Regions from separate parts of the Homo sapiens genome. Here all the other regions are linked to region 3. Evidence: fine-mapped expression QTL. A gene starts in region 3. Each other region holds a variant in brackets. All regions are shown on one strand. Distances are between the middles of the regions.

The links. PIP is the estimated chance that this variant, and not a neighbour inherited with it, causes the effect. A credible set is the group of variants that fine-mapping cannot tell apart.
Region 1: its variant is the best candidate, but not a certain one, in a credible set for the expression of RAP2C in blood mononuclear cells (TOPMed, PIP 0.71).
Region 2: its variant is the best candidate, but not a certain one, in a credible set for the expression of RAP2C in whole blood (TOPMed, PIP 0.80).
Region 4: its variant is the best candidate, but not a certain one, in a credible set for the expression of RAP2C in aorta (GTEx, PIP 0.57).

What each region holds. Positions count from the first base shown.
Region 1 is chrX:132,131,088-132,139,171 of GRCh38, reverse strand. It overlaps the pseudogene AGKP2. Among named protein-coding and RNA genes, the nearest start is that of FRMD7, 7.1 kb to the right of the region's middle. The variant C/A (reference allele first, on the strand shown) is at 4,136.
Region 2 is chrX:132,499,081-132,507,164 of GRCh38, reverse strand. No RefSeq gene overlaps it. Among named protein-coding and RNA genes, the nearest start is that of MBNL3, 14 kb to the right of the region's middle. The variant T/C (reference allele first, on the strand shown) is at 3,672.
Region 3 is chrX:132,215,068-132,223,151 of GRCh38, reverse strand. RAP2C (RAP2C, member of RAS oncogene family) reads left to right here and starts at 3,705. Exons shown (of 6, transcript NM_001271186.2): 1 at 3,705-3,782; 2 at 4,811-4,920; 3 at 5,140-5,236; 4 at 5,346-6,156. The coding sequence starts at 5,884. It overlaps RAP2C-AS1 (RAP2C antisense RNA 1), which reads right to left and starts at 4,645. Exons shown (of 3, transcript NR_110410.1): 1 at 4,315-4,645. RefSeq lists enhancers at 3,334-3,383, 3,714-3,783 and silencers at 5,216-5,265, 5,276-5,715.
Region 4 is chrX:132,509,691-132,517,774 of GRCh38, reverse strand. No RefSeq gene overlaps it. Among named protein-coding and RNA genes, the nearest start is that of MBNL3, 25 kb to the right of the region's middle. The variant T/C (reference allele first, on the strand shown) is at 3,413.

The sequences.
Region 1 (8,084 bases), 84 kb after region 3:
ACAGTGGAGTACTATTCGGCCACAAAATAGAATGAAATGTGTCTCTTACAGCAACATGGATGGAACTGGAAACCATTATCTTAAGTGAAACAACCCAGAAACAGAAAGTCAAATACCACATGTTCTCACTTATAAGCTAAATAATGTATACATGCAGACATAAAGGGTGGAATGGTAGATACTGGAGACTCAGAAAGGTGAGAGGATGGGAAGGGGGTAGATGGTGACAGATTACTTAACCAGTACAATTAATTTCTTAATGGGTACATTATTTGGGTGATGGACATAATAAAAGCATAGACTTCACCAGTACTCAATATATATCCAGATAACAAAATTGCACTTGTACTCTTTAAACTTTATACAAAATCTTTTTTTATGGACAATTGATTTTATTTATTTATTTATTTATTTATTTATTATTATTATAGTTTAAGTTTTAGGGTACATGTGCACATTGTGCAGGTTAGTTACCTATGTATACATGTGCCATGCTGGTGTGCTGCACTCACCAACTCGTCATCTAGCATTAGGTATATCTCCCAATGCTATCCCTCCCCTCTCCCCCCACCCCACAACTGTCCCCAGAGTGTGACGTTCCCCTTCCTATGTCCATGTGTTCTCATTGTTCAATTCCCACCTATGAGTGAGAATATGCGGTGTTTGGTTTTTTCTTCTTGTGAGAGTTTACTGAGAATGATGATTTCCAATTTCATCCATGTCCCTACAAAGGACATGAACTCATCATTTTTTATGGCTGCATAGTATTCCATGGTGTCTATGTGCCACATTTTCTTAATCCAGTCTATCATTGTTGGACATTTGGGTTGGTTCCAAGTCTTTGCTATTGTGAATAATGCTGCAATAAACATACGTGTGCATGTGTCTTTATAGCAGCATGATTTATAGTCCTTTGGGTATATACCCAGTAATGAGATGGCTGGGTCAAATGGTATTTCTAGTTCTAGATCCCTGAGGAATTGCCATACTGACTTCCACAATGGTTGAACTAGTTAACAGTCCCACCAACAGTGTAAAAGTGTTCCTGTTTCTCCACATCCTCTCCAGCACCTGTTGTTTCCTGACTTTTTAATGATTGCCATTCTAACTGGTGTGAAATGGTATCTCATAGTGGTTTTGATTTGCATTTCTCTGATGGCCAGTGATGATGAGCATTTTTTCATGTGTTTTTTGGCTGCATAAATGTCTTCTTTTGAGAAGTGTCTGTTCATGTCCTTTGCCCACTTTTTGATGGGGTTGTTTGTTTTTTTCTTGTAAATTTGTTTGAGTTCATTGTAGATTCTGGATATTAGCCCTTTGTCAGATGAGTAGGTTGCGAAAATTTTCTCCCATTTTGTAGGTTGCCTGTTCACTCTGATGGTAGTTTCTTTTGCTGTGCAGAAGCTCTTTAGTTTAATTAGATCCCATTTGTCAATTTTGGCTTTTGTTGCCATTGCTTTTGGTGTTTTGGACATGAAGTCCTTGCCCATGCCTATGTCCTGAATGGTAATGCCTAGGTTTTCTTCTAGGGTTTTTATGGTTTTAGGTCTAACATTTAAATCTTTAATCCATCTTGAATTGATTTTTGTATAAGGTGTAAGGAAGGGATCCAGTTTCAGCTTTCTACATATGGCTAGCCAGTTTTCCCAGCACCATTTATTAAATAGGGAATCCTTTCCCCATTTCTTGTTTTTCTCAGGTTTGTCAAAGATCAGACAGTTGTAGGTATGTGGCATTATTTCTGAGGGCTCTGTTCTGTTCCATTGATCTATATCTCTGTTTTGGTACCAGTACCATGCTGTTTTGGTTACTGTAGCCTTGTAGTATAGTTTGAAGTCAGGTAGTGTGATGCCTCCAGCTTTGTTCTTTTGGCTTAGGATTGACTTGGCGATGCAGGCTCTTTTTTGGTTCCATATGAACTTTAAAGTAGTTTTTTCCAATTCTGTGAAGAAAGTCATTGGTAGCTTGATGGGGATGGCATTGAATCTGTAAATTACCTTGGGCAGTATGGCCATTTTCACGATATTGATTCTTCCTACCCATGAGCATGGAATGTTCTTCCGTTTGTTTGTATCCTCTTTTATTTCCTTGAGCAGTGGTTTGTAGTTCTCCTTGAAGAGGTCCTTCACATCCCTTGTAAGTTGGATTCCTAGGTATTTTATTCTCTTTGAAGCAATTGTGAATGGGAGTTCACTCATGATTTGGCTCTCTGTTTGTCTGTTGTTGGTGTATAAGAATGCTTGTGATTTTTGTACATTGATTTTGTATCCTGAGACTTTGCTGAAGTTGCTTATCAGCTTAAGGAGATTTTGGGCTGAGACAATGGGGTTTTCTAGATATACAATCATGTCGTCTGCAAACAGGGACAATTTGACTTCCTCTTTTCCTAATTGAATACCCTTTATTTCCTTCTCCTGCCTAATTGCCCTGGCCAGAACTTCCAACATTATGTTGAATAGGAGTGGTGAGAGAGGGCATCCCTGTCTTGTGCCAGTTTTCAAAGGGAATGCTTCCAGTTTTTGCCCATTCAGTATGATATTGGCTGTGGGTTTGTCATAGATAGCTCTTATTATTTTGAAATACGTCCCATCAATACCTAATTTATTGAGAGTTTTTAGCATGAAGGGTTGTTGAATTTTGTCAAAGGCTTTTTCTGCATCTATTGAGATAATCATGTGGTTTTTGTCTTTGGATCTGTTTATATGCTGGATTACATTTATTGATTTGCGTATATTGAACCAGCCTTGCATCCCAGGGATGAGGCCCACTTGATCATGGTGGATAAGCTTTTTGATGTGCTGCTGGATTCGTTTTGCCAGTATTTTATTGAGGATTTTTGCATCAATGTTCATCAAGGATATTGGTCTAAAATTCTCTTTTTTTGTTGTGTCTCTGCCCGGCTTTGGTATCAGAATGAGGCTGGCCTCATAAAATGAGTTAGGGAGGATTCCCTCTTTTTCTTTTGATTGGAATAGTTTCAGAAGGAATGGTACCAGTTCCTCCTTGTACCTCTGGTAGAATTCGGCTGTGAATCCATCTGGTCCTGGACTCTTTTTGTTGGTAAACTATTGATTATTGCAACAATTTCAGCTCCTGTTATTGGTCTATTAAGAGATTCAACTTCTTCCTGGTTTAGTCTTGGGAGAGTGTATGTGTCGAGGAATTTATCCATTTCTTCTAGATTTTCTAGTTTATTTGCGTAGAGGTGTTTGTAGTATTCTCTGATGGTAGTTTGTATTTCTGTGGGATCGGTGGTGATATCCCCTTTATCATTTCTTATTGTGTCTATTTGATTCTTCTCTCTTTTTTTCTTTATTAGTCTTGCTAGCGGTCTATCAATTTTGTTGATCCTTTCAAAAAACCAGCTCCTGGATTCATTGATTTTTTTGAAGGGTTTTTTGTGTCTCTATTTCCTTCAGTTCTGCTCTGATTTTAGTTATTTCTTGCCTTCTGCTAGCTTTTGAATGTGTTTGCTCTTGCTTTTCTAGTTCTTTTAATTGTGATGTTAGGGTGTCAATTTTGGATCTTTCCTGCTTTCTCTTGTGGGCATTTAGTGCTATAAATTTCCCTCTACACACTGCTTTGAATGCATCCCAGAGATTCTGGTATGTTGTGTCTTTGTTCTCGTTGGTTTCAAAGAACGTCTTTATTTCTGCCTTCATTTCATTATGTACCCAGTAGTCATTCAGGAGCAGGTTGTTCAGTTTCCATGTAGTTGAGCGGCTTTGAGTGAGATTCTTAATCCTGAGTTCTAGTTTGATTGCACTGTGGTCTGAGAGATAGTTTGTTATAATTTCTGTTCTTTTACATTTGCTGAGGAGAGCTTTACTTCCAAGTATCTGGTCAATTTTGGAATAGGTGTGGTGTGGTGCTGAAAAAAATGTATATTCTGTTGATTTAGGGTGGAGAGTTCTGTAGATGTCTATTAGGTCCGCTTGGTGCAGAGCTGAGTTCAATTCCTGGGTATCCTTGTTGACATTCTGTCTCATTGATCTGTCTAATGTTGACAGTGGGGTGTTAAAGTCTCCCATTATTAATGTGTGGGAGTCTAAGTCTCTTTGTAGGTCACTCAGGACTTGTTTTATGAATCTGGGTGCTCCTGTATTGGGTGCATATATATTTAGGATAGTTAGCT[C/A]TTCTTGTTGAATTGATCCCTTTACCATTATGTAATGGCCTTCTTTGTCTCTTTTGATCTTTGTTGGTTTAAAGTCTGTTTTATCAGAGACTAGGATTGCAACCCCTGCCTTTTGTTGTTTTCCATTTGCTTGGTAGATCTTCCTCCATCCTTTTATTCTGAGCCTATGTGTGTCTCTGCACGTGAGATGGGTTTCCTGAATACAGCACACTGATGGGTCTTGACTCTTTATCCAATTTGCCAGTCTGTGTCTTTTAATTGGAGCATTTAGTCCATTTACATTTAAAGTTAATATTGTTATGTGTGAATTTGATCCTGTCATTATGATGTTAGCTGGTGATTTTGCTCGTTAGTTGATGCAGTTTCTTCCTAGTCTAGATGGTCTTTACATTTTGGCATGATTTTGCAGCGGCTGGTACTGGTTGTTCCAGTACCAGGAGCTTTTTTAGGGCAGGCCTGGTGGTGACAAAATCTCTCAGCATTTGCTTGTCTGTAAAGTGTTTTATTTCTCCTTCACTTATGAAGCTTAGTTTGGCTGGATATGAAATTCTGGGTTGAAAACTCTTTTCTTTAAGTATGTTGAATATTGGCCCCCACTCTCTTCTGGCTTGCAGAGTTTCTGCCGACAGATCTGCTGTTAGTCTGATGGGCTTCCCTTTGAGGGTAACCCGACCTTTCTCTCTGGCTGCCTTTAACCTTTTTTCCTTCATTTCAACTTTGGTGAATCTGACAATTATGTGTCTTGGTGTTGCTCTTCTCAAGGAGTATCTTTGTGGTGTTCTCTGTATTTCCTGAATCTGAATGTTGTCCTGCCTTGCTAAATTGGGGAAGTTCTCCTGGATAATATCCTGCAGAGTGTTTTCCATTCTCCCCGTCGCTTTCAGCTACACCAATCAGGCGTAGATTTGGTCTTTTCACATAGTCCCATATTTCTTGGAGGCTTTGCTCGTTTCTTTTTATTCTTTTTTCTCTAAACTTCCCTTCTCGCTTCATTTCATTCATTTCATCTTTCATCGCTGATACCCTTTCTTCCAGTTCATTGCATCGGCTCCTGAGGCTTCTGCATTCTTCACGTAGTTCTCGAGCCTTGGTTTTCAGCTCCATCAGCTCCTTTAAGCACTTCTCTGTATTGGTTATTCTAGTTATACATTCTTCTAAATTTTTTTCAAAGTTTTCAACTTCTTTGCCTTTGGTTTGAATGTCCTCCTGTAGCTTGGAGTAATGTGATCATCTGAAGCCTTCTTCTCTCAGCTCGTCAAAGTCATTCTCCATCCAGCTTTGTTCCGTTGCTAGTGAGGAACTGTGTTCCTTTGGAGGAGGAGAGGCGCTCTGCTTTTTAGAGTTTCCAGTTTTTCTGCTCTGTTTTTTCTCCATCTTTGTGGTTTTATCTACTTTTGGTCTTTGATGATGGTGATGTACAGATGGGTTTTTGGTGTGGATGTCCTTTCTGTTTGTTAGTTTTCCTTCTAACAGACAGGACCCTCAGCTGCAGGTCTGTTGGAGTACCCTGCTGTGTGAGGTGTCAGTGTGCCCCTGGTGGGGGGTGCCTCCCAGTTAGGCTGCTCGGGGGTCAAGGACCCACTTGAGGAGGCAGTCTGCCCGATCTCAGATCTGCAGCTGTGTGCTGGGAGAACCACTGCTCTCTTCAAAGCTGTCATACAGGGACATTTAAGTCTGCAGAGGTTACTGCTGTCTTTTTGTTTGTCTGTGCCCTGCCCCCAGAGGTGGAGCCTACAGAGGCAGGCAGGCCTCCTTGAGCTGTGGTGGGCTCCACCCAGTTGGAGCTTCCCGGCTGCTTTGTTTACCTAATCAAGCCTGGGCAATGGCGGGCGCCCCTCCCCCAGCCTCGCTGCCGCCTTGCAGTTTGATCTCAGACTGCTGTGCTAGCAATCAGCGAGACTCCGTGGGCGTAGGACCCTCTGAGCCAGGTGCAGGATATAATCTCCTGGTGTGCAGTTTTTTAAGCCAGTCAGAAAAGCGCAGTATTCGGGTGGGAGTGACCTGATTTTCCAGGTGCCGTCTGTCACCACTTTCTTTGACTAGGAAAGGGAACTCCCTGATCCCTTGTGCTTCCCGAGTGAGGCAATGCCTCGCCCTGCTTCGGCTCGCACACGGTGCACACACCCACTGACCTGCGCCCACTGTCTGGCACTCCCTAGTGAGATGAACCCGGTACCTCAGATGGAAATGCAGAAATCATCCGTCTTCTGCGTCGCTCATGCTGGGCTATACAAAATCTTTTAAATAAGAAAAATAAAATGGAATGTCGAAGTAAATGAACACATCTTTCACAATAAAAGAAATCCACACAAAAAAGAAATTAATATAAATGTAATGGCACTGGGGCCAGGCACGGTGGCTCACACCTGTAATCCCAGAACTTTGAGAGGCTGAGGCGGGCAGATCACGTGAGGTCAGGAGTTCCAGACCAGCCTGGCCAAAATGGTGGAACCCCCATCTCTGCTAAAAATACAAAAAAAAAAAAAAAAAAAAAAAACTAGTGGAGTGCGGTGGCACATGGCTGTATTCCCAGCTACTTGGGAGGCTGAGGCAGGAGAGTCACTTGAACCCGGGAGGTGGAGGCTGCAGGGAACCAAGATCGCACCACTGCACTCCAGCCTGGGAGACAGAGCGAGACTCCATCTCAAAAAAAAAAAAAAGTAATGGCCCTTAAACATATGAAAAGATGCTTGACTTCTCTCATAATATGAAAAGTACACCAAGATTTTTTTTCTCACCTATCAGTTTGGTAAACATTCAAAAGTTCGATACTCCACTGTCAAGCCTGTATAGAAAACAGTCACTCTCATATATTACTAATGGGACTGCAATGTAGCACAACCTTTATTAGTTTGGTAGGGCTGCCATATGAAATATCACAGACCGGGTGGCTTAAACAACAGAAAGTTATTTTCTCACCATTCTGCAGGCTAGAAGTCTGAGATCAAGGTGTTGGCAGGACTGGTTTCTTCTGACACCTCTCTCCATGGCTCATAGATGTACATCTTCTCCTCTATGTGTCTTCATGTTGTCTTCCCTCTCTACATGTCTGTGTCCTACTCTCTTTTAATAAGGACACCAGTCAAACTGGATTACGACCCACCCTAATGACCTCATTTCAACTTAATTACTTCTTTAGAGACCCTCTCTCCTAATGCAGTCACATTCTGAGTTACTAGGGCTCAGGACTTCAATGTATGAATTTTATGGGTCACAATTCAACCCATACTAACCCTTATGGAAGGAAATATAGCTATCATGACTACCAATTCATTATCCTTGACCAGCAACTCTACTTCTGGAAATCTATCCTACAGATATATCTGCACACATATAAATTGACATATGTATGAAGATATTCATTTCAGTCTTGTTGAGGCTGAAATATTAATTTCAGACTGGCTGAGTGAACTTTGGTTTGTCTACACAGTGCAAAATTATGCAGCTGTGAAAAGAAATGAGGAAGTTCTCCATGCACAGGTAAGGGCAGATCTCCATGATAAATGAGGAAAAAGAATGCACAAAACAGTGTAATACTAGTATGCTACCTACATAGGATATATATATATATTTGTATTTGCTTGTATAAAATTTGCATAAGGAAACACTGAAGGCTGAACAACTACAACAAAACGCTAATAAAAGTGGTTATTGAGTGGGACCAGCCATGCAAATCTCTAGAAGATGACGGTGTTCTTTAAAACACTTCAAAATCATTGGAAGAAAACTACAGCTGGGCTCTTCCTGCTGACCTGGGGAGGCCAGTGGCTCTATGGAAAACACTGTGATAACCTACTAAGGAGAGCAGCCTGTGAAGAAGCTCAGGTGTTTGGCAATCAACTCATTCCTCCCAATGCACAAGTGAAGAAGGAAACTGTTTTTCTCAATCCTGCAGCTTGCAAAGGCAAAGCCAGGATTCTATTTGAAAAAAATGCTGCCCCGATTTTAC
Region 2 (8,084 bases), 280 kb before region 3:
AATCTTTGAGGGTTTAACCTTTTCTAGTAGGATCATTTGGTATTAAGATAGGGAAAAGTGAAACATTAGTAAAATTCAAGCCACTACATTCTGCTTTTAAATCTGTGTTCACCTTTCTACTCTTGTAATCTAAGCTCAACTGTTCATTCCTTTTATCTCCATCCTCTTCAAATCTTCTTCATGTTTTCCTTATAGATTAAAAGATGGGAATTTAAAGCACTAGTTTTATGTAGTGTGTAGATGTGTACAAATTCCTATATTTGTTTACGTACATACACATACACCTTATTCTTGAATGTGCACCTCGGGGTCTACAAAAGATATCCACATATCTCGACTGTTTATCACAACAGCCTTTCGAAGTCAGAGTTTGTAATCCCCATTGTTAGAAATGGGGAAGCCTAGATTTTTTAATCCACTTTAAACTAAATTTTCTCCCCCCATACACACAATATTTAAATAACATTTCATAATTTAAATATAAATTAGTGCTGTCCCTTTTAGGGCTATACACTTACTTCAGTTTGGTTAACGACCCTCCTCTTTGGAAACTATCTTCTGAGCCCATTCTTATGACTCTCAGTGGTGCAAAAGTTCAGTCTCCTGAGAGTGGGTTTAATTTTTGGAAAGGACACCTTCCCTGGAAGCGAAGTCTAATGCAGTAGGGGGGCGACATTGGATCAAACTGAACAATGCTGTTTGTGTTCACTGACTAGGTGTGGATCTGAAGAAATGACTGTGCTTTTCTTTTACGACTCAGATACTGGCTCTAAAGACATTTCCCCAAGAGGAGTTCCAAAATGTGAAGTACTGGCAGTGAAAAGTCTACTTTTGAAAGACAAAGGTCACTTGGATGTTTCAAGTGTTGAGAGTTTCCTTCAAAGTAGTCTCATTGCATTTTAGGCAGGCAGTGGTCATTACACAGTAGATCAGCTTGTTCCCTAATGATTTAAGTATAACTTCACTTTCACTGACCTCACCTTCTGTAAAACAAAGCCTTGAAGCACTTAGCAGGAGTCACTTATTTTAAAAAACCCTAGGCCTCGCTTAAATCACACTTGTTCCCTTCAGGCCCTCAGTAGGCATCACCCTAGAATCAAAGTGAAGAATGATTTGGGTGTCCTGCTGATGTAGGAACCATCTTAGTGAAGAGAATTGCCTCTGTTGATTGGATTGAGGAATCCTAAAATCTAGATAACTTATTCCAAATCTTTCAAATGTAAAGAGCTTGGATGCATGTGGGTTTTACTGCTCTGAAAGGAACTGTGACTCAGGTTAGGATTGAGAAACAAATGTAATCAGTGGCATTCAACATCCTTTTAATTCTGGGAGGTCACAATGTTAAAGGGACTTAAGACAAGGATCCCATAACTGAAGCATGCTGAAAAATACATAATAGGATTCAGGAGAAATCATCCTCAGGAGTGTTAAGAAATAATCACAGTTCTGTGGTGCCTTTCTTCTTTGCCACTGAAATGCAGCCAACTCTTGGTGGCAGAGCATGCAGCCCACTTCCACACAGCACACTGCATAGCACAAGTGGAAAGAAGAGTAGGAAAACTTTCATTGCCTTCCCAATGTTTAGCCAAATTTTTATACTCCTGTGAAAAGACCCTGATGCTTCTCATTGTAATGCTTTGTCTGGAAAGAGCAAGTATCTGGTAATTGACCTTGGTTAGGATTCTTGGAAGCTACAAACACAGGGCTGCCAGCTTTGAATTTTTCCATTGCATTGTGCAATGGCACAGCCAGGGGGTTCTGTCCTTGGACCATTATGCAGTAGAGGAGCACACAAGTAATTCTTTAAGAATGTTCACTTGTGAATAGAGTTTGCTGCTGTGGCATATGCTTCCTTTAGAGACAGGGAGCACCGGCAGAGGAATGGTGCTGGCTACAGAGGGCGACACTTAATGCATATTTTGACTTTTGATTTTTACAGCCAAGGCTGGACTGTTCCTTTTGGACTTTGATCTAAGCCTTATCATTCATTACACATTGTTATGAACCATCGGTTTTAATTACACTGCCTTTCTTTATACTCTCCTCCTTGGTCTGCCTTCCTAGGTCCATTAGAAACATTGTTTCATAGAAGCACTATTGAGAGAAAACAACAGTGCTTCCATATTTCCATATTTCCCTTCTTATGTGCCCCTTATCTCTCTCTCTCTTTCTCTCTCTCACTCTCCCTCCCCTTTCCTATTTAGTGAAGCACCTGCATTATTCATATGTGAATGTTGGCCCTTTTATATTTCACAGAATAGCAGAAAGAAAAAACAATGACAATTTTGAAAAATGTACTACTTAAGTACACTCCATTTTTTAAAGTTGCTTTTTTCTCTGACCTATGTAAAATGTAAGGGTCTAAGCAGTATTATAGTCACACTCCCATTTAACTGTCACTCAGGCAATCAGAACCTTCAAGCAACTGGCAGAAGTTGCAACTGCATGTGCAATCTGGGGAATCCTACACTGACAAGAAGGCCTGCACTCCAAAGCTGCCTGCCTAAGTCTTCAGACACATGGGGAAAGATGCTGAAGTTGCCTAGCAGTACTTCACATATGCTAATTGCAGCCATCAATGATTGTGGAAAGAGGGGACTCTGTGGCTAAGACTGGCTGGTCATGGCATACAATCAATTTGAGTGCATCTGAGGGAAAGGATGCAGGTTTGTATAAAAAGGGTTGTATTTACCAAGGAAATACCGTATCATATATGAGCTGTTTTTAATGAGCTGAAAAGAATTATTTTTATAATAAACAGTGACACAGGCTGGTGGAGAAATGCAAATGTCAATTTTTTTTTTTTTTTTTTTGCCTTAGAAAAGAGGAAAATAGGTCTCATCATAGGATGAAGAAGACAAAGATGAGTAAAAATTGGGGGAGGGAGTGTACAAAATACAAGACATTTAAACCACTCGTCTATAATTTCTCCAGTTCTTCTGAATCATTCTGTTATCTGTGCCTGAACCTATACAAACTGTGATTTGAATTGGGATGGAAAAGTACTGCTCCAGCCTGTAGTTTAGAAGTCTCAGAAGATATCTAGTCCAACTCATTTCACTCGTGTATTCATTTATGCCTTCCTTCCTTCATTTATTCATCAAACATGTTTGAGTGCTCACTGCATTCGAGGTGATAGTAATACAAATATAAGTAAGATATAGTCCATGCTCTGAAAGAGTTCAAGGCCTATTGGAATAGTGCATTAGCAGACAGACTGGAAAGTGGAGAGGCTGAATTGTGTTCAACACATAGCGGGAGCACAAAGGGGAGGATGATCACTTTTGCCAAAGTAAGTTAAAAAAAAATCATAATAGGGCTGGGTGCGGTGACTCACGCCTGTAATCCCAGCACTTTGGGAGGCTGGGGCAGGTGGATCACCTGAGGTTAGGAGTTCGAGACCAGCCTGGCCAACATGGTGAAACCCCCATCTCTACTAAAAATACAAAAATCAGCCGGGTGTGGTGGCGCACACCTGTAGTCCCAGCTACTCAGAAGGCTGACGTAGGAGAATCACTTGAACCCAGAGGCAGAGGTTGCAGTGAGCCGAGATCATGCCACTGCATTCCAACCTGGGCAACAAAGTGAGACCCTGTCTCAAAAAAAAATCATAATAATTCACAGACCAGGTATCATTACTGATGAAGACAATGAGGCCTGCAGAGGGAAAG[T/C]GAGCTGCCTAAAGTCTGTGTGGGAGGCAGAATTGCATACCACCTTGCCATTGCTATAAAGGCCTTAGTATCACACCTCAGTACAGCAATAACAGGCCAGTCTTGCCCCCATAAATGGCAAAGGAAGCCTGAACCATTTACTTAAAGAATTCCACAGAAACAAAATTACATTCTCCTATGGGACAAGGGAGGTTAGAGAGAATGATTAGAAAGATTTAGTGTTCCCTTCCTTTCCCTCCTCCTCTGGCTTATTCTGCTCAGCCAGAACCACCCAAAACAGCCTGGACTTTGGGTCCTCATGAGACTTTTTCCTAGTGGGTTGTTACCAGGACTGATGCTTTGTCTACAAGAGTGACGTCTTGGGGTTGGTAAAAGGCTGTATTTCTAATCATCCGTAACTAAGAGGTTAGATCAGTTAGCACATGTGTTATCCTCATTCAGGAGTGAAGGGAAGTCCACACTGCTGGGGCAGCCTCGCCAGTGAGCAGTTTTATTGCATAAAGAAAGAAGAATCTCCCCTTCTCCCCCATTAATCTGAATCTCATTTTCTAATGAGTCCACCTTCTGGAAATGTTACTGCAGTTACTTACATGACCACCTTCAAGGGACTTCTTTATTAAGTCGTAATCAGAGGGTTTTATTTGATAAGATTTGAACATGAAGAGAAACAGTAACAACAGACCAAATCTGGCAATCTGTCTTTATTATTATTTGTTAACAGTAAAGACAAGGGTAAGGAATTATGATCTCACCTCTTTCCTTGATCATTTTAAGTATATTTGTGATAGAGGCCTATAACCCTTTTTGAGTTAAGATATGTATATCAGAGGGAGTAAGATGATGGATGAGTTATCTAAGAATATGCAATAAATTGGTAATGCTAGAGGCAATGATACTGACTCTCAAGCTAGGATTTAACTTCTTTTGGGTCCCATTACAATCAGAAAGTAAATGTGTGCTATGTGTAAAATATGCAAAGGAATATTGTACTACAAAATTTTTACATGCTGTCATTTAAATGGGAATGTTAGCTACACAAAATGAAAGATTATAATAATGTTAATAGACTTTTTTCTTCTTAGGCTTTATTCATTTATTTGGAAAACATATAGTGTTACACTGTTCTAAAACTTATAAAAGTTCTAAATTCATTCATCTTCATAACTACCTTTTGAGGTAGATACCATTATTTTCCCCAATGTACATACAGATGTTAAACTGGTTTATTTTAAATTTGAATTTGTTAATAAAGGGAAGAAGCGGTTTACACATTTACTTCCCATTATTATACAAATTGAGTAGACCCATTTTTTTTTTCTTCAAAAGAAAATGATTAAGGCAAATTGTCAATTTCCATTTTTTCAGAGAAATCAATGTTTACGGTATGCCCGTTATCCTGCCTTATCCTCAACCTCACCCTTCTCTTCATCAATGAAAATGTACTATTACTGGCTTTTGGAAGAACATAGTAACTAAGGTATAATTACACGCTATCTCTCAGGAGCAAAGCAGACTTGGGGTCTGAATGTTATTTACAGCCCCATGTTTTCCTTCCCAAGACTTCTGCTGTCTTCTAGCTAATTTTAGCTGTGTGAAGGAGGAAGACTGATGGATCCAATTGCCAAAGCAGACAGAGTGTGGACATGCAGTGCCAGGTTCATGCCGTAACTGGTGATGACACCTCAGTAGAACCTTGCAACAGTTCTTGTAATCCCAGCTGGACCTCCCCTGAGCAGAGACAGCAATTATGTGTAGTGGCTTTCAGATGTAAACAAATGTTCATGGGGAACTGACTTATAATCAGCCAAGTCATTTCATTTATGGCTTACATCAAATTGGAATGAAAGGCTCTGATCAGGGAAATTGAGCACATTCATTTACTATCTCAGCAAGTGTTTTTAGAACTTATGTACAATTCTTTCCCTTTAAAGATATGACTGTTCAGTGTATTTAAGGCTTGAAAGCATTTTAGAAATAGAGTGTATCTTAAAAATAACTCTATATCTCCTTTTGTACTTAGCTCCAGTATACCAATGTATATTTGGCCATTTTCCATTACTGTTATTTATTATGACTCAGTGCCATATGCCTGGGAAGGGATAACATAGAAAATTATGTTTTTATGGGAACGTTGGTGGTGCCATGTTATTTCTCTGTTTCTCAGTCTCTGTCTTTGTTTCTCTTTCTTTTATTAACTGTGCTTCAGCAAATGCTTTAAAACGATGGTAGCTGACACCATCACTGGCCATCAGAGAAATGCAAATCAAAACCACAATGAGATACCATCTCACACCAGTTAGAATGGTGATCATTAAAAAGCCAGGAAACAACAGGTGCCGGAGAGGATGTGGAGAAATAGGAACACTTTTACACTGTTGGTGGGACTGTAAACTAGTTCAACCATTGTGGAAGTCAGTGTGGCGATTCCTCAGGGATCTAGAACTAGAAATACCATTTGACCCAGCCATCCCATTACTGGGTATATACCCAAAGGACTATAACTCATGCTGCTATAAAGACACATGCACACGTATGTTTATTGTGGCACTATTCACAATAGCAAAGACTCGGAATCAACCCAAATGTCCAACAATGATAGACTGGATTAAGAAAATGTGGCACATATACACCATGGAATACTATGCAGCCATAAAAAATGATGAGTTCATGTCCTTTGTAGGGACATGGATGAAATTGGAAATCATCATTCTCAGTAAACTATTGCAAGAACAAAAAACCAAACACCGCATGTTCTCACTCATAGGTGGGAATTGAACAATGAGAACACATGGACACAGGAAGGGGAACATCACACTCTGGTGACTGTTGTGGGGTGGGGGGAGGGGGGAGGGATAGCTTTAGGAGATATACCTAATGCTAAATGACGAGTTAATGGGTGCAGCGCACCAGCATGGCACATGTATACATATGTAACTAACCTGCACATTGTGCACATGTACCCTAAAACTTAAAGTATAATAATAATAAAATAAAAAAAAGATGGTAGCTGAGAGAATTGTTTAAAAAATACAAAAACCATACTAAAACTTTATATAGAATGAGTTAAAAACCAGAATGTCTATTTCTTTCAGCCATTGGTTAGGTATGAAACAAAAAACTGTTAAAATGCATGGGCAGATGTGGAAAATGTGAGTACATAAGACCAAATGATTCCAGAACTCTATGCCCTGCCATATACATTTCTTTCTTGAATACTATATGCTGCCTCTCTGCTCAGATCTACCCTTGCTTCTGCAGTGCCCATGACTATGCTCCAGCCATTTAGCAAGTACTCAAAACTTTAAGACCACTCAGTGTTTGAACTCAATACACAGAAGAAATGCTAGGTACTTTGGAAGGTGAAAATAAGCAAGTGAACTCCTCAAGAATAGGTGTATGAACTAGTTTGAAAAACAAGATAATGTGCAGGAAGAATTCAAATCATTAGGCAGGCAATCTGAAACTGGATATGAAGCAGGGAATCAAAGTAGGCGTGGACTGGGTAAGTTTCCTGGGGGATACAGGACTTCAACGAGTCCTTGAAGAGAAGTCAAACTTGAGGTTTATGGAGGAGGTAGGAATTGTGCTAGGACTGAAGCATTTGGACCTGGGCTCAAGTCCTGCCTCCTTCTCATAATGGCTGTATAACCTTGGGAAGATTATTTTATTTACCACACACTTATACAACACTCCATATGTGGCAGGCACTGTTCTAAGTGCTTTGTAAATAGTAACTCACTTAAGCTTTATAATAATTCTATAAAGCAGGTACTATTATTATCCTCATTTTCCTCTAAGAGGAAACTAAGGAACAGAGAGGTTAACTAACTTGCCCAGGATCACACAGCTAGTAAGTGACAGAGCAGGAGCCAAACCCAGGCAGCTAAGTCTACACTTAGCTACTATACTATGCTGCAAATTTCACAGCTTTTCTATTAGTTTTCCATTTATTGAACAAATAGAGGCAATAATTCATTTGGGTCCTGTTGTGAAGAGTACATGTGATAAGGTCAGTGAAAGTGCCTGGTACAACGAAGGCACTGGATAAAAAAGCTGTTTTTCCTCTTTCTTTTTTTTTTCCTTTCTCTTGAAAACTCAGCTTTCTCCTGGTTCTTGGAATCGGTCCTGTCTTGCTATTTTCTTGAATACTATATGCTGCCTCTCTGCTCAGATCTCCTATCCTTGCTTCTGTAGTGCCTATGACTATGCTCCAGCCATTTTGTGAGTACTTTGTTTTTTTTTCTTTTCTTTTATTTGTTAATTGACTTATAACAATTTTAACTATTTCTGGGGTACATAGTGATGTTTCAATACACATATTGTACAGGATCGGATCAGGGTAATTAGCATATTCATCATCTTGAACATTTATCATTTACTTGTGTTGGGGACATTCAATATCCTCCTTCTAGG
Region 3 (8,084 bases):
GTCCTCTGTGGTCAGCAGCACCTCTAGTGAAATCTCATTGATTGGATGAAGGATTCCAGGTGAGCAAAATTGAATGTGATTAAATTCTCATTGATGCTGTAGGAAAGCTAAAGCTATAGGAAAAAAGGCTTACTCATGTAGGGGATGAGGGATACATGAGTATTTTTTAGTGCTTTATGCAGACATGATGTTTCAGTAAGTGAAAGAAGCCATTCACAAATTTATATGAACCCATTATTAGTTTACAAAAAAAAAATGTTCTTTAACTCTCTCCAGAAAAAAAATTGTGAAAGACACTAAAATGTTAATAGCAATTTTCTCCAGGTAGTGGGATTATACTTTTATAATTTTTTGCAAATAACATTATTTTCATGAGAAAAAAGATAATAATAAAGGTATAAAATTGGTTTTGTGTACTGGGGGAGCCTGACATGCAGAACTAATGATTAACTAATGATTGGTGTAGCTGGAGGCAGGATTTGAAAGAGAAGATTGGAATCTTAGAGGGTAGGAGCTAGAAAGAATCCAGGACAATTTAGCTGATATCAATGGGGTCCCTAAAGCATTGAAATAAGATTTCTGTAGGCAAAGACTGAGGACATTACTGGCTCAAGCTTTCTGGTAATTCAAGAGCAACTTCTAGCAAAAGAGAAGGGAAGAGCCTGGATGGAAAATAGATAGCCATGTATAGAAAGTAGATGGATAGCCATGGGTTTTTTCCCAGGACCTAGAAGGCAAGACGGCTCATTTGGAGAGTGGAAGTTAGGGTAAAATATCCCAGGCAGTTGGTGGCTCCAAGGATTGCAACTGAAGGAGGTAACAACTCGAAAAGAAGAAAGGGATAAGTAAGCAACTGGTGCCTGTAGCAAACATCCAGCACTTTAAACTTGTGCCAAACTAATTTCAAAAAATGAGATTATGGCCCTATTACTTATATTATCTGCATATAGTGCATACACTGTGGTTTCTTCACACTATGGTAAAAATGGGTTGTGTTCTTTAAAATAATGCCTGAGCAATACTTTGGAAAGGAGGTTGATGCAGAATTAAAGCAAAAGTTGTGAATCTCAAGGGCATGATCTCTAGAGAAGTCCTCCCATTCCCCTCTTCCCATATTCAAGCCTTTGGAGTAGAAAATTATTACTTGAGCAGTTTCTATTTATTGAGCAATTAATATTTGGAAGGCTAAATGCTTTGAATGGATTTCTCATTTATTATTCTATGAGTTAGATACTGCTATTATGCCCAACTTTACAAATGAAGGAATGGAGGTGTAGCTTGCAAAAGGGCAGTGTTAGGACTGTCTGGCTCTGAAGTCCAAATTCCTTCTAAAACGCTGCCCTGCATTTGTTAGTCCTGAAAATACCCTAAAGCAAGTAACAATCACTATAAAATGCTAAAATTAGTAATACCTACTGTGAGGTTATAAAATGATACGGTCATACTGCATTGGTGGGAATGTGAATTGGTGTGACCTTTCTGAAGGACAATTTGGCAATACTTACCAGAAGAATTTTAAGTGCAAGTGCCTTTTGTTTCAATTATTGAATTACTAGAAATTCACCCTAAACATTAACTGACAATGATATATGTCCAAGGCGTTTAGTGCAAAAACCTAGAAGCAATCAGTGTCCTTCAAAGGGGAGCTGGCTAATTAGCTTATGATACAGCCATGAAATAAAAATTAAGAAGGCCAGACATGGTGGCTCATGCCTTTAATCCCAGCACTTTGGGAGGCCAAGTCGGGAGGATCCCTTGAGCTCAGGAGTTGGAGACCACCATGGGCAACATAGTAAGACTCCATCTCTACCAAAAAAATTAAATTAAATTAAATTAGCTGTGTGTGGTGGCATGTACCTGTAGTCCTAGCTACTCGGGAGGCTGAGGTGGGAGGATCCCTTGAGTCCAGGAGGTTGAGGCTGCAGTGAGCTATGATCATGCTACTGCCCTCCAGCTTGGGTAACAGAGGGAGACACTGTCTTAAAAAAATTAATTAATTAAAGTTTAAAAAGCAAGGTAAAAAATAGTGTGTACAGTTGATTACTTTTGTAGTACAGTAATTTTTAAAAATATATATAGAAGGTAGATTGATACACTGACATATGAATAATGTTCCCCCCTGAAAAACATAAGAAGCTTTTAACAATAAATATCTTTGTGAAGAGTAACTGAATTATTATTTTCGTGCCACTTGCAGATATTTGAGCTTTTAAAATTTTGTTACCCCCATGTTTGCTATTTTTTAAAAATTAACAATTCATTAAATCTTTTAAATAAAAACCAAATAGCATTTATTGAGGCTTTATAATGTGCAAGGGACTGTGCTAAGCACTTTACCTGTAATACCTCATTACATTTTCACGTTAACTTCTTATCTCCTTTTTACAAGTGAGGAGTTAGAGGCTCAGACAAGTGAAATCACTTGCTTGGGGACACAGAGCTAGAATGTGGCGGAGCTGCAATTTTAATGCACCTCTGTCTCATTTCAGAGCCTTAGCTCTCAACTGCCAGGCCGCACTCTTCTGCTTGCTCTTTATACCCTCATTGCTTAATGAGAGTACACTAGCAAACAACAGGAGTCTAATGAGATAATGTATGTGAAAATACTTTTCTAAGTATAGAGATGTTTGGGGAGGGCAAGCAAGGGTAGGGAATTTGTTTAAATTGGGCGGACCTGTCCACTGACCCCTAGACAGTCAGGATTTTTTTTTTTTTTTTTTACAAAACCAAGATCAACAACTTTCTTTTGTTCCTCCTTTAAAAATATTATAAAGTTATATTTACTTCCTTTTTCCCAATTATTGTTTATAAATTAAAATATGGAGAAATAAAAGCCATTTCATAATAGTCCTCACCCATAATTACTTTGTTTCAGATTTGAATGGCTATGTAACTATTACACACCTGCGTTTTACATAAACAGTAGCAACTAGACATTTGTTCAGTATCTTGCTTTTTCAGCCCTACAATATATCTTGGCCATCTTTTTATATAAACACTTACAAATCTGCTTTTCTCTTTTAAAGTAGCTGCATAATATCCTATTCTGTGAATACAGATAGGTAGGTAGGTAGGTTGGTAGATAGATAGATAGATGATAGATAATAGATATAGAGAGCTATGAAACTTTTAAAAATCACCTACTGAAGGACATTTAAGCTTCTTCCAATTGTTTGATTTCCTAATCAATGCTGTAATGAATACCCTTCCTAAGAAAGTTTAGAAGGATCTTTAGACTGAGTGTAATATTTGTCCACTGTAGTTGACGAGAGTGACCCCACAGGACGCTGTACTGAGGGGAGGAGTATGTTTCACTGCGTGGAGAAACAAAGAACTCTCTCCTAAGCATGACCAACACATTCAGAGATATTAGAATTGCCAACAGGTGGGATGACCTGAAAAAGAACTCCTTGCTTTGACAGTTTAGTAATAGAGCAAAGACTTGCCACGATTGCTCAACACTGGCTGGATCAGAAGAGGAATTTCCAGACTCAGTTACAAGCACGGCTGGTGGAGGGCTGTGAATCCCACCAGACAGTCTGGAGACAGCTAGGCAGGGAGATGAGCAGCAGAGCTCCAAATCAGGCAACAGCACGTGTGAAAGGAGCAGTGACCTGTGGGGAAACTCATAACTCACAGACCAAACCCCTTCCAGCAGAGGGCAGTGCCTCTGATACGACACAGGGCCCAGGCCAGCTGGAGCCAGAGCTGGGGACTTCGCTGGAGAGATGGCACCGGCCTGAGGTCAAGGAGAAATTGAACTAAACTCTCCTTTGAAGACTGTAAGTGACATTGGGGAATACTCAGGGAGGGACAGTGGGACCTCACACTACTATGATTCGCCTGTGTTCTAATGTCCAACAATTTAGGCTGAGTAATAAATCTCTTTATAGAGTTTGGCCATTTAGGGCTTGTAAGTAAGGGAATTTGGAGTCATTTTTGCTAGGCTGGCCACTGAGTCTCGCAGGTTTCTGGGTACATGCTTGAATTGAAAAGAAAGTGACACACCTAAAATACAGCCTAGACTCCTGGCCCTGGGGCTCTGTGGATCCGACACAAAGTTTACAAATAGAAAGCTAGCAAAGGGAAAGATAGTCGGAAGTAACAATTTTATCTAAAAATAGAAACTTAGAATCTAACACCAGAGTTACTACTTGCTTTTGAATTTCAAAGACTACATAGGATGGCCTTTAAAACAAAACTTCAGCATGTAAGAGCCAGCCAAGCAAATTGTTATACATAATCAACGATTAAAATAAATTAGTCTTTAGGCCTAAACCGTTTCCAATCAAATCTTTCTTGAATATTGGTTACCTTTTCTGCCGTGTAGTGGTTGGAATCAAATGAGAACATAGCTGAGCAGAGTACCATAAAGTCTACTTCTAATGCTGCTGTTTTCGAGCCTTGTGATTTTTTTTTAAGTGACTTTAGTATTCGCTGGTAAAGTCAAGGCGGATCTACCAGACGGTAAAAGTTCTGTGTGTTTGTCAGGCACGGCTAAGTAAAACGCACTGCATCTGAAAGTCTAAGGGTAGTTTGCATGCATCTCTCAGCAAAATAGCAAGTGGAAGAAATACCAGCAAGGAGAATAAACTTTCTGGGCTGTTTGATTTCCCCTGCAACTTCTAGTCCAGGGATGTTTGGCGTTCTCCCGGTCGCTAGATTATTAGCCCGCAGGTTCCGCACCGGCCAGGGAGCCGCTCAAGTCCTAGGGCCGGGCGGCTGGAGGTTGCAGGTCGGAGGGGCTTCTACGGGTTTGGGGGTGGGACGGTCCGCGGCAGCCGCGGGCGGGTAAGGACTGACGTCGCAGGTTTCCAGAGGCCCGTTCCCGAAGCCGGAGTCCCGACCCGAAACCGTCCCCGGCCGGCTCGCTCGCTCAGCAGGGCGCGGCTCCAGCGCCACCCGGCTCGCCCCGAAGAGGTGGGACTTTCCCCACCGGAAGTGATCCCGTCCAGTCTCGGGGAACTGGGGCACCTCAGCCAGTGTGTCAGGGAAACCCTTCCGGGTGTGTGCTTGGTGGGGGTGGGGGTGGGGGTGGGGGTGGGGGTGGGGGGTGGGTGAGAAAAAAAAGAGGTGGGTTCGCCTGGAGTCCCTGCGGCCGCCGCGGAAGGCCCCCGCTTCTTTCCCCGCGGCGAGCAGCAGCGCTGGGGCAGCGGAGAGACAGAGGAGCCAGCGGGTGGCCATGGCCTTGGCGTGACAGAGCCTCCCCGGCGGCCGGGCGGGTGCGGACGGCGGGGTAAGCGGCAGTAGCTTGATCCGGGTGGGAGTTGGGGGAGGCGGCGGCCGGCGCCGCAGGTTCGGGGCGGGGGTCAGCCGGGTAATGTGCGTCCTTCTCCCCTTCACAGGCCGGACGACCCCCGCGGGAGCCGGGGCCCAGAAACCCGCCCGGGCAGCGGTAACTGGAACGGAGCCCTCAGGCCTGAGCCGGCTGGGCTGCGCGAGCAGGAAGCGGGGTCCCTGGGCCCCTTTGTGTGAAGGGCGGGGGAGGAGTGCCGGGCAGCCCCGGGCTGCGGGCTCCTCCGACGTCCGCCTCGCCGCAGGGTCCCCTCGCCGCAGCCCCCACCCTTTCCCTCCCGGGGGCACGCGCCTCCTCGCCACCCTCGCCGGGCTTTTCCCAGGCTCGCCCTCCTCCCCACGCCCCCTGCTCGGGCTGCAGTTCCTATAGGAAGGGCATTACCATCCCTTCCCCACCCTCCCCGACTCTACGCTCTTTCCCCTCCCCCTCCTGTAACTTCCTCTTCTTCCCCGGTTGGGCCCTCTGCTCCTCTGCACTCTCCTCCCCAGTTCGCAGATTTCCGCCCACCTTCCGCCTCGTCTAGCCGCGCCACAGCTAGCGGGGTGATCTTTCCCCCCCTCTGGTAGGAGTTGGTGAAGGTGAGACTCATGAGGGAATACAAGGTAGTGGTGTTAGGGAGTGGAGGGGTTGGCAAATCTGCCCTTACTGTGCAGTTTGTCACTGGGACTTTCATTGAGAAATATGACCCCACCATTGAAGATTTCTACCGCAAAGAGATCGAAGTGGACTCTTCCCCCTCCGTGCTGGAAATTCTGGACACCGCAGGAACTGAGCAGTTTGCCTCCATGAGAGATCTCTACATCAAAAACGGCCAAGGTTTCATCCTGGTTTATAGCCTGGTTAATCAACAGTCTTTTCAGGTAACCAAACCAAGTCTTGTAATTTGTTAGAAGGGGGTGTGGTAATCCGACATCGACTTCTGGGTTGCTTGAACCGTGCATTAATGACTGTGCTTTGCTTTTGAAAGTTAGACATGACGCATTTTTGAGGTTACTCCTGCCATGGAAGACTATCGGGTTGTTTCTATAGAGCGTAGTAAAAAGTAACAAGCGTCAACAAATATTTTAAAGCTATTTTTAAGTGAAAGAAAAGTGAAAAAGAAATGTCAGTCTGTGTATATTTCGCCTGGAATATAACCTTCTGAAGTTGCTTGCTCAATTCAACAAGTATTGATTAACTTACACGACAAAACATCTAACAAATAATCTCGGGTAAATAGAGCACTTTGAAAAAATTATTTGGAGCCGATTATCTGTTGCACAGATAAGTCCTCTGTGTCTGTCCCACCCACACCTTCCCCTCCCACCCCCCAACACCCCCTCCCGCCGCCCTCCCCTTCTCTCTCAAGTTTCTCAACTAGATTCATAAATCTTAGTGTTGCAAGACGAAGAACTCAAGACCTGCCTTCTAGGCATTTTACTTAATTACTTGGGGCGTGTAGTAGGAAGAAAAGTTACTAATAGAAAAGACTAGTACCTAGAATTAATAACCAACAAAAATCAGGAATGACTCTTTTTCTGCAGTTGATCCAAATTGTTTCTGGTAACATTGCCTGTATTTACAGAAAATACGTGGGTCTGGGAACACTGAACAAGTGCAGATTTCTTACTCCGGCTGGGTGGCCAAACTGGATGTGGTCCAATCTCTTAGAAAATCTGTCCTGTCCTTCACTGGGAAACAGACTGAAGGTTTAACGTTATTTTAGGATATGCAATGTATGTTTCTATTTATCCCTTGAAAATGAATAACCTCATATTGACCCATTATATTGACCTCCATTGATTTAGGAAATGGATATATTTTTTCTGCATTTAAAGGTATGCACTTAATGTAGCTTACTTAAGAGACCTTAAGTGCTTTAGCCAATACAATGTGCTAATTCCACTTTCTTTAGTATTTTAAATTAAAGTACTATAGTGAACTTTCCCAGTAACCTGATAGAACAACTTCAGGGATTTTTTTTTTTTAAGATGATAAATTCTGGGGAAATAAATCAAAGCTATTGAGACCAAACTAAATTCATTTTATGTAGGCATAAATTCCCAAACAATAGTATCATAAAAGCATTTTCCCCCAGAAAGTACCAAAGTACTGAAGGTGCTGTTTGACAGGCATTTTTTCCCTAAAGGATCCTCAGGAGATTTGTTATTCTATCAGCTTACTCTCTGGAGGCTGAGAGTCTTTTGAAGGGTGTTTCATAAGATTTCTGTTATATCCATTTGTGTTATAGACATGAATTGGGAGTGAAAAACTGTGCCGTTATTTCAGTGGAGGTGTAAACTCTTTTGAGCCCAAATGCCCTAAGTTTGGATTTTCAGCTGAACTTATGTTTCCATAAAGACAATGGGAAATAAGCGTAACCTAGAAATCTGAGTTGATATATTATCAAACCAAATTGATGCAAATATCAAATAACTATATTTTTATAGATTTTCATAGTCCCTTGCTTTTCCGTAGGCCCACATGTGAATATTCTGTACTTACTATGACTTCCAATTAAGCATACATTTTCTATTTAAGGCAAACTTTTAAAATTATGAAATATTACCGAAAATGGTGATTTTTATAATTAAGTCTATAATATTGTATTAAATCAATACTTGCCCCCACCTCCCAAAACTGATGCTACTGGAGAATTGCTAACGCTCTTATCTTTTGTAATTCGTTGTAACTACTTGGAAAAAGTAATACGCATGGGGAAACAAGTAGTAAAAACAAACACAGGCAAAAAAAAAAAAAATGACTTCTTCCCACCCAGACTCCCCTTGCACTGTCCTTCCCAGGAGTT
Region 4 (8,084 bases), 290 kb before region 3:
CCCTATAAGATGCTTAGCAGCATCTCTGGCCTTTACCCACTACAGTAGCAGCCCACCCCGAGTTGTGACTATCAGAAACGTTTCTAGGCATTGCCAAATGTCCCTTTGGGGAGGGGGGAAGAAAAATTACTACTGATTCATAACCACTAAATTAGAATCAACCCCAATATCTTACCATGGGCTATACAACCTTTCAAGAGCTGAACTCTGCTCACCTCTCTGATTTTAGTGTATATCGTACCTCACTACGCTCACTATATTCCAGCCACAGTAACCATCTTTTTGTTCTGGGAATGTGCTCTAGCCTCAGGGTTTTTTCCTTTGCTTGGGCTAATCCCTCTTTTTGGAATGCTCTCCACAAACATGTCCCTGCCTCATACCACATTTGCTTATTTGACATTTGTTCACTATTCAGATTTTAACTCAGTGAAATATTACTTGATTTCCTAGACCACTGAAGTTCCCTATATGTACAATCTCAGGTACTGGTACACTTCCTACCCAGGGCCATGTCAATGATGGATCACAATTGTATTTCCAGCACACAATCTAGGGTTGGGTTCCTAGGTTCTAAATCCAGCCCCACTACATATTAGCTATGTGACTTTGGAAAAGTCACTTGATTTATTGAAGACTTATTTTCCTCTTCTATGAAAAAGGGGCCTTACTTCATTGGAAGGGGCCTTACTTCATTATTACTCAAAATATTGAGGAATAAATGAATTACCTAATGGAAATTTTTTTACCAGCATACATACCTACCACATAATAACTCAATAAATGCTAGTTACTACTACTGCTGCTGTTGCTGCTGCTACTACTACTACTACTACCACTACTGCTACTAGTACTACTACTACTACTACTATTACCAATTATTGTTATATTTGCATCAAGACAATGTGACCTTAGGTGGAAATTCAGCCATAGCTTTCCAATTATTTCCTTTTTGGCCCAAGAGGAGCAGCACTTTTCCCTTTAAAATATATGAACAGATTGTTCTTTTTGCTGATTTGATTTTTTTTCACCTTTAAGTGGTTATTTGAATATTCTACTGTGAAGAGCAAAATAATAATATTCAGCCAATTCTGCATGGTCCTTTCTTGGTAAATAAATTGGTTTCTGCATTTGTCCATTTTCATGCTGCTGACAGATATACCTGAGACTGGGCAATTAACAAAAGAAAGAAGTTTAATGGAGTTACAGTTCCATGTGGCTGGGAAGGCCTCACAATCATGGCAGAAGGTGAAAGGCACATCTCACGTGGCAGAAGACAAGAGAAGAGAGCTTGTGCAGGGAAATTCCAGTTTTTAAAACAATCAGATCTTGTGAGACTCATTCACTATCACCAGAACAGTGCAGATAAGACCCAACCCCATAATTCAATCACCTCCTACCAGGTTCCTCCCATGACATGTGGGAATTGTGGGAGTTACAATTCAAGATGAGATTCGTGTGCGGCCAAACCATATCAATTTCTTAGGTGTAACTTCTGATACTTGATGACTTTTCTCAGTGCTTGCCTACCTGCTGAACAGAATAAAACAATTATATAATGCTCACATAATCTCCTATTGCTTTTTAAACTCTCATTTTAAGTCATTTTAAACTGTCATTTTAATTATTATTATTTTAATCTTATAAAGAAGACGGTCTGTAGTAGACAGAATAAACACCCCCCTCCTCAAATATCTCCATGTCCTAATCCTGAGAACCTATGAGTATGTTGCCTTCCATGGCCAAAAAAAAAAAAAAAAAAAAAAGACTTTGAAGATATGATTCAGTTGAGGATCTTGAGATGGGGAAATTATCCTGAATTATCCAGGTAGGTGCAACCACAGGGGTCCTTTTAAAGAGGGAAGGCAGTGTGAATACAGAAGGGGAGAGAGAGATTTGAAGCTACTCCACTGATTTTGAAGATGAATAAGGGGACCAGGAGGCAAGGAATTTAGGTGGTCTCTAGAAGCTGGAAAAGGCAGGAAACAGATTTCTTCCCTAGAGCTCCCACAAGGAACCAGTCCCAAGATGAAAGCCAAGAATGAGGGGGAAAAAACAAGATTTCCTTGTTAACTCACTATTTTTACTTCCTTGTATGTATTGATATATAATTCACATACAATAAAATTCACCATTTTGAAGTGTACAGTTCAGTGGTTTTTACTATCTTAAGATTCCACAATCATTACTGTTATGTAATTCTAGAACATTTTCATCACCCCAAAAAGAAACCCCATATTCACTAGCAGTCACAAACCATTTTCCCTCCTCCTACCCCTGGCAACCACTAATTTTTCTGTTTCCTAGGATTTGCTTATCATTCACATTTCATATTATTAGACTTATACAAAATGTGGTCTTTTGTGTCTGATTCTTTCACTTATAATTTCATAAGTTTAATCCATGTAACATGTATCAGTACTTCATTCATTTTATGGCTGAATAATATTCCATTGTATGGATAGTCCACATTTTTTTTCTCCATCACCAGTTAAAGAGTGTTTGGGTTATTTCCACTTTGGGATATTTTTATGAATAATGCTGCTGTGAATATTGTGTGGGTAGAAGTTTTCCTTTCTCTTGAGTATATGCTATATACCTAGGAGTGGAATTAAGTCATGTGGTAACTCTGTGTTTAACTTTTTCAGGAACTACTAGATTGTATTCCAAAGTAGCTGCACCATTTTATTCCCACTAGCTGTATATGAGGGTTTCAGTTTCTCCACATTCTAATGAACACTTGCTATTGTCTGTCTTTTTTATTGTACCCATCCTAATGAGTATGAAGTGATATTTTAATTGTGGCTTACATTTTCCTTATGGCCAATGATGCTGAACAACTTTTCATGACTATTTGTATATGTTCTTCGGAGAAATGTCTCCAAATGTCTGTAGCCAATTTTTAACTGAATTATTTGCCTTTTTGTTGTTAAGAGGTTTTAATTCTTTATATAGTCTAGATATTAGACCCTTATTAGCTGTATGATTTCCATATTATTAGATATTTGCATATTATTAGATATATGATTTGCTATATGATTATGATTAGATATATGAATTGCATCACATAGATATATGATATCTCTCATATATGCATATATGATATCTCTCATCTATGCATATATGATATCTCTCATATATGCATATGTGATTTGCATATTATTAGATATATGATTTGCAAACATTTTCTTCCATTCTGTAGGTTGTCTTTTTACTTTCATGACAGTGTCTTAAGAAGCGCAAAAGCTTCTAATTTTGATAAGGTAAAATTTTGCTATTTTTTCCTTGGGTGCTCGTGCTTTAGGTGTCATATCTAAGAAACCATCGCTCAACCAAATTTCACCAAGATTTACACTTATGTTTTCTTCTAAGAGTTTTGTAACTTTAGCCATTAAATACAGACCTTCGATCCATT[T/C]TGTGTTTTTAGTTAATTCTTGTATATGGTGAGAGGTAAGGGCTCAACTTCATTTATGTGTGGATTTCTAGCTGTCTCATAAAGGTTACTTAAAAAGATTATTAATTCTCCCATTGAATTGAGTTAGCATCCTCATCAAAAGACAATTTACCATTAATGTATAAGTTTACTTCTGAATACTCAATTCTATTCCATTGATCTATTTTTATGCCAGTACAAGATAGCCTTGATTACTGTAGCTATCCATGTACTAATTTCTGAAATAGGAAGGTGTGAGACCTTCAACTTTAATCTTATGTTTCAGGATTGATCTGTCTTTTCTGTCACTCTTGTATTTCCATAGGACTTTTAGGATAAACTTGTCAATTTCTGCAATAAAAGGAAGCTGGGATTTTGTTAAACATCACATTGAATCTATAGATCTATTTGGGGAGTGTTGCCATTTAACAATATTAAGTCGTTCTGTCTGTGAAAATGGCAGGGTCTTTCCATTTTTTTATTTAGGTTTTCTTCCATTCCTTTCAATGATTTTTTTTCTTTAATTTTCAAGGTATACATTTTGCTTTTGTTAAATGTATTATTAGTGTAATTTCTTTTGAATCTATTTTCAATTGAATTGCTTTCTTAATATCACTTTCAGATTGTACATTGACAATATATATAAATACAAGTGGTTATTTTTCCAATACAATACTATGTATTTAAGTGATACCAAGGGAGCTATCTTTCCTCACACTATATATGTTCTATTACAGACTTCAAGGTAAGCCCTACTTCATGAGTATCTTTGGCCTTGGATAACATCTATGACATATTACCAAGTTATATTGTTCATAAATGTATTAATTGAATGACAAATAAGTGCCATGTACTGAGACTGGATACATATATAGAAAAACTCATGGTGTCTACCCTCCAGGAGTAACATAAAGAGACTAGAAACACACAATGTGATACATTTTATGAGAAATTTGTCAAGACAATATAAAATATTGATTCATTACATATTACAATTAACTTTTGCATATTAATCTTGTATCTTACAAACGTGGTGAGCTCATTTACAAGTTCTAATAGTTTTCTTCTGAATTCCACAGTATTTTCTTATATAAGATCATACCATCTGCAAATATGGTTTTACTTCTTCCTTTCCAGTCTGGATGCATTTTACATCATTTTCTTACCTAATTGCTCTTGCTGGCACCTCCAGTACAATGTTGAATAGAAGCAGTGAGAAGCATCCTTATCTTGTGCCTGATATTAGGGGGAAAGCTTTAAGTATTTCACCATTCAATATGATACTAACTGTGAGTTTCTCATAGCTGCCCTTTATCAGCATGAGCAGATTCCTTTCTATTCCTAGTTTATTGAGTATGTTTACATGAAAGAACATTGAATTTCATCAAATGCTTTTTCTGAATATATTGAGAGGATCATGTAATTTTTCCCTTTATTCTATTAATATGGTATCTTACATTAATTGATTCTTGCATGTTGAAGCAACCTTGCATTACTGGAATAAGTCTTACTTAGTCATAGAATATAACATTTTTACGTGCTGCTGTATTCTGTTTGCTAGTATTTCATTGAGGACATTTACATCTATATTGAGAAGAGATATTACTCTATAGTTTGTTTCTTGTGATGCCTTTGTCCGACTTTGTTATTCGGGTAATACTGGCTTCATAGAATGAACTGATAAGTACATTCTCCCCTTTGAGGTTTTGGAAGTTTGTGAAGTATTGGTGTTAATTCTTTTTTTTTTCAGATGACTTGCATTTTACTGCTACACAATAATTATACATATTTATGGGGTACATGTGATATTTTGATAGATGCATGCAATTTGTAATAATCAAATCAGGGCAATTGAGACATTAATCACCTCAAACATTTTTTTTGTGTGTGTGAGTCCATTCCAAGTATTCTTTTCCAGGTACTTTAAAATATACAATAAATTATTGATAACTATAGTCTTTCTACTATGCTACTGAAAACTAGAACTTATTCTTTCTATCTAATTGCATTTTGTACCCATCAATGAACCTCTCTTCATCTTTCTCCCAACTCTAACTTCTGGTGAATACCATTCTGTTCTCCATGTCTATGAGATCAACGTTTTTAGCTTCCACATATGAGGGAGAACATGTGATATTTGTCTGTCTGCATCTGGCTTATTTCAGTTACATACCCTCCAGGCTCATCCGTGTCTTGCAAATGAAGGATTTTATTATTTTTATGGCTGAATATTATTTCATTTTGTATATATACCACATTTTAAAAATCCATTTATCCATTGATGGACACTTAGGTTGATTTCATATCTTGGTTATTGTGTATAGTGCTGTGATAAACATGGGAGTGCAGATATATTCAATATACTGATTGCCTTTCTTTTGGATATATACCCAGCAGTGCAATTGCTGAATTATACGGTAGCTCTACCTTTAGTTTTTCTTAGGAACCTCCATACTATTTTTCATAATGACCATGCTAATTTACATTTCCACCAACAGTGTATGAGAGTTTCTCTTTCTCAACATCCTCGCCAGCATCTGCTATTTTTTGTCTTTTTGATAATGGCCATTTTAACTGAAGTGAAATGCTATCTCATTGTGGTATTGATTAGCATTTCACTGATGATTAGTGGTGTTGAGCATTTTTCATATACCTGTTGACCTTTTCTATTTCTTCTTTTGAGAAATGTCTGTTCACATCATTTGCCCATTTTAAAATTGGATTATTTTTTCTTTTTGCTGTTGAATTGCTTGAGTTCCTTATATATTGTGGTTATTAATCCCTTGTTAGGTAGCCTGAAAATATTTTTTCCCATTCTGTGGGTTGTCTCTTCAATTTGTTGTTTCCATGGCTGTGCAAAAGTGTTTTAGCTTGATGTGTTCCCATTTGTCCATTTCTGTTTCTGTTGCCTCTGCTTTTAAAGTCTTACACCCAAAATCTTTGCCTACACCAATGTCCTGAAAAATTTTCCAATGTTTTCTTTTAGTTTCATAGTTTCAGGTCTTACATTGGTCTTTAATCCACTTTGATTTGATTTTTATATATGGTAAGAGATAGGAATCTAGTTTCATTCTTCTATGTATGGATATCCAGTTTTTCCAGCACCATTTATTGAAGACAGTCCTTTCCCCAATGTATGTTCTTGGTGCCCTTGTCAAAAATGAGTTGGCTGTAAATGAGTGGATTTATTTCTGGGTTCTCTATCATGTTCCATTGGTATGTGTGTCTTGTTTTTATGTATCATGCTGTTTTTGTTATTATGGCTTTTTCTTTTTAGGCACTCAATGAAGATTCTTTTTATTAATATCAACAATAACGTGGATGCTTTATTCATTAAGTATCTATTATTTATGTGCCAGGGGCTGTGTTGGCTTCTACATAAATTGCTGGGATTCCACACATATCTTTTCGAGTCTAGAAGTCATGGAAAACTCCTTTACAAATAACTGCTTAATTAGGGTTTTGTGAATGAATGTGGATTACTGCTCTCATTTAATAGAGAGCAGAGACTTGCTCTGTGTCTGGGACAGGTCTTGTACATGTGAGGGTGCCAGGGAAGAGTCAACCAGTGGCCCTAATTTGGTGATAGTTTCTATTTCCTTCTTCCCTCAATAAAACTCAGTTTCTTGAGTTTTCTCTGCTTTTTTGATACTTCATCTGTTGGCACTGTCAGGGAACATCTGGTATCTCGGAACTATAAGCATCGTATGTACCCCTCACGTATATAAAACTCTTATGTTTTAATTGTTTTGAGTAAAACAATTAAAATGTAAAAAATCCTTAGCATTCTCCCTCTCTCTGAATCATACTAACTTTGAGACTAATAGTAGGTTTTTTTTTTTAATTTTTTTTTACTTTTAATTTTGTGGGTACATAGTAGATGTATGTATTTATGGGATACATGAAATGTTTTGATACAGTCATGCAATGTGACATAATCACATCATGGAGAATGGGGTATCCATCCCCTCAAGCATTTATCCCTTGTTTTACAAACAATCCAATTACACTGTTTAGTTATTTTGAAATGTAAAATTAAGTTATTATTGACTGCAGTCACCCTGTTGTGCTATCAAAATATAGCTTCAATGTATATTTTAAAACAAGATAGTATGGTGCATCCAACTTTGTTTTTTTATTCAGAGTTGCTTTGGCTATTTGGGGTCTTTTGTGATTTCTAGGTATTTTGTTGTAGCTATTGTAAGTGGGATTGCTTTCTCGACTTCTTCTTTAAGATTGTTCACTCTTGGCATATAGAAATGCTACTGATTTTTGTATGTTTATTTTGTGTGAGATTGATATTAATTATTCCTTAAACATGGGAGATTTCACCAGTGAGCCATTTGGGGCTGGGCTTCTCTTTGTGGTATTTTTTTATTACTAATTTGATTTATTTACTTGATAAAATAATGTGTATTCATATTCTCTATTTTATCTTGAGTCAGTTTCTGTAGTTTGTGTCTTTTATGTATTTTTCTATTTCATCTATATTACGTAAATTGTTTGCATACAATTTTTCATTGTATCCCCTTATAATCCTTTTTATTTCTTTAAAGTTAGTAGTAATATCCAGCTTTTAATGCTGATTTCAGTAATATGAGTCTTCGGTTTTTCTTCTTGGACAGTCTAGCTAAAGGTCTGTAAATTTTCTTTG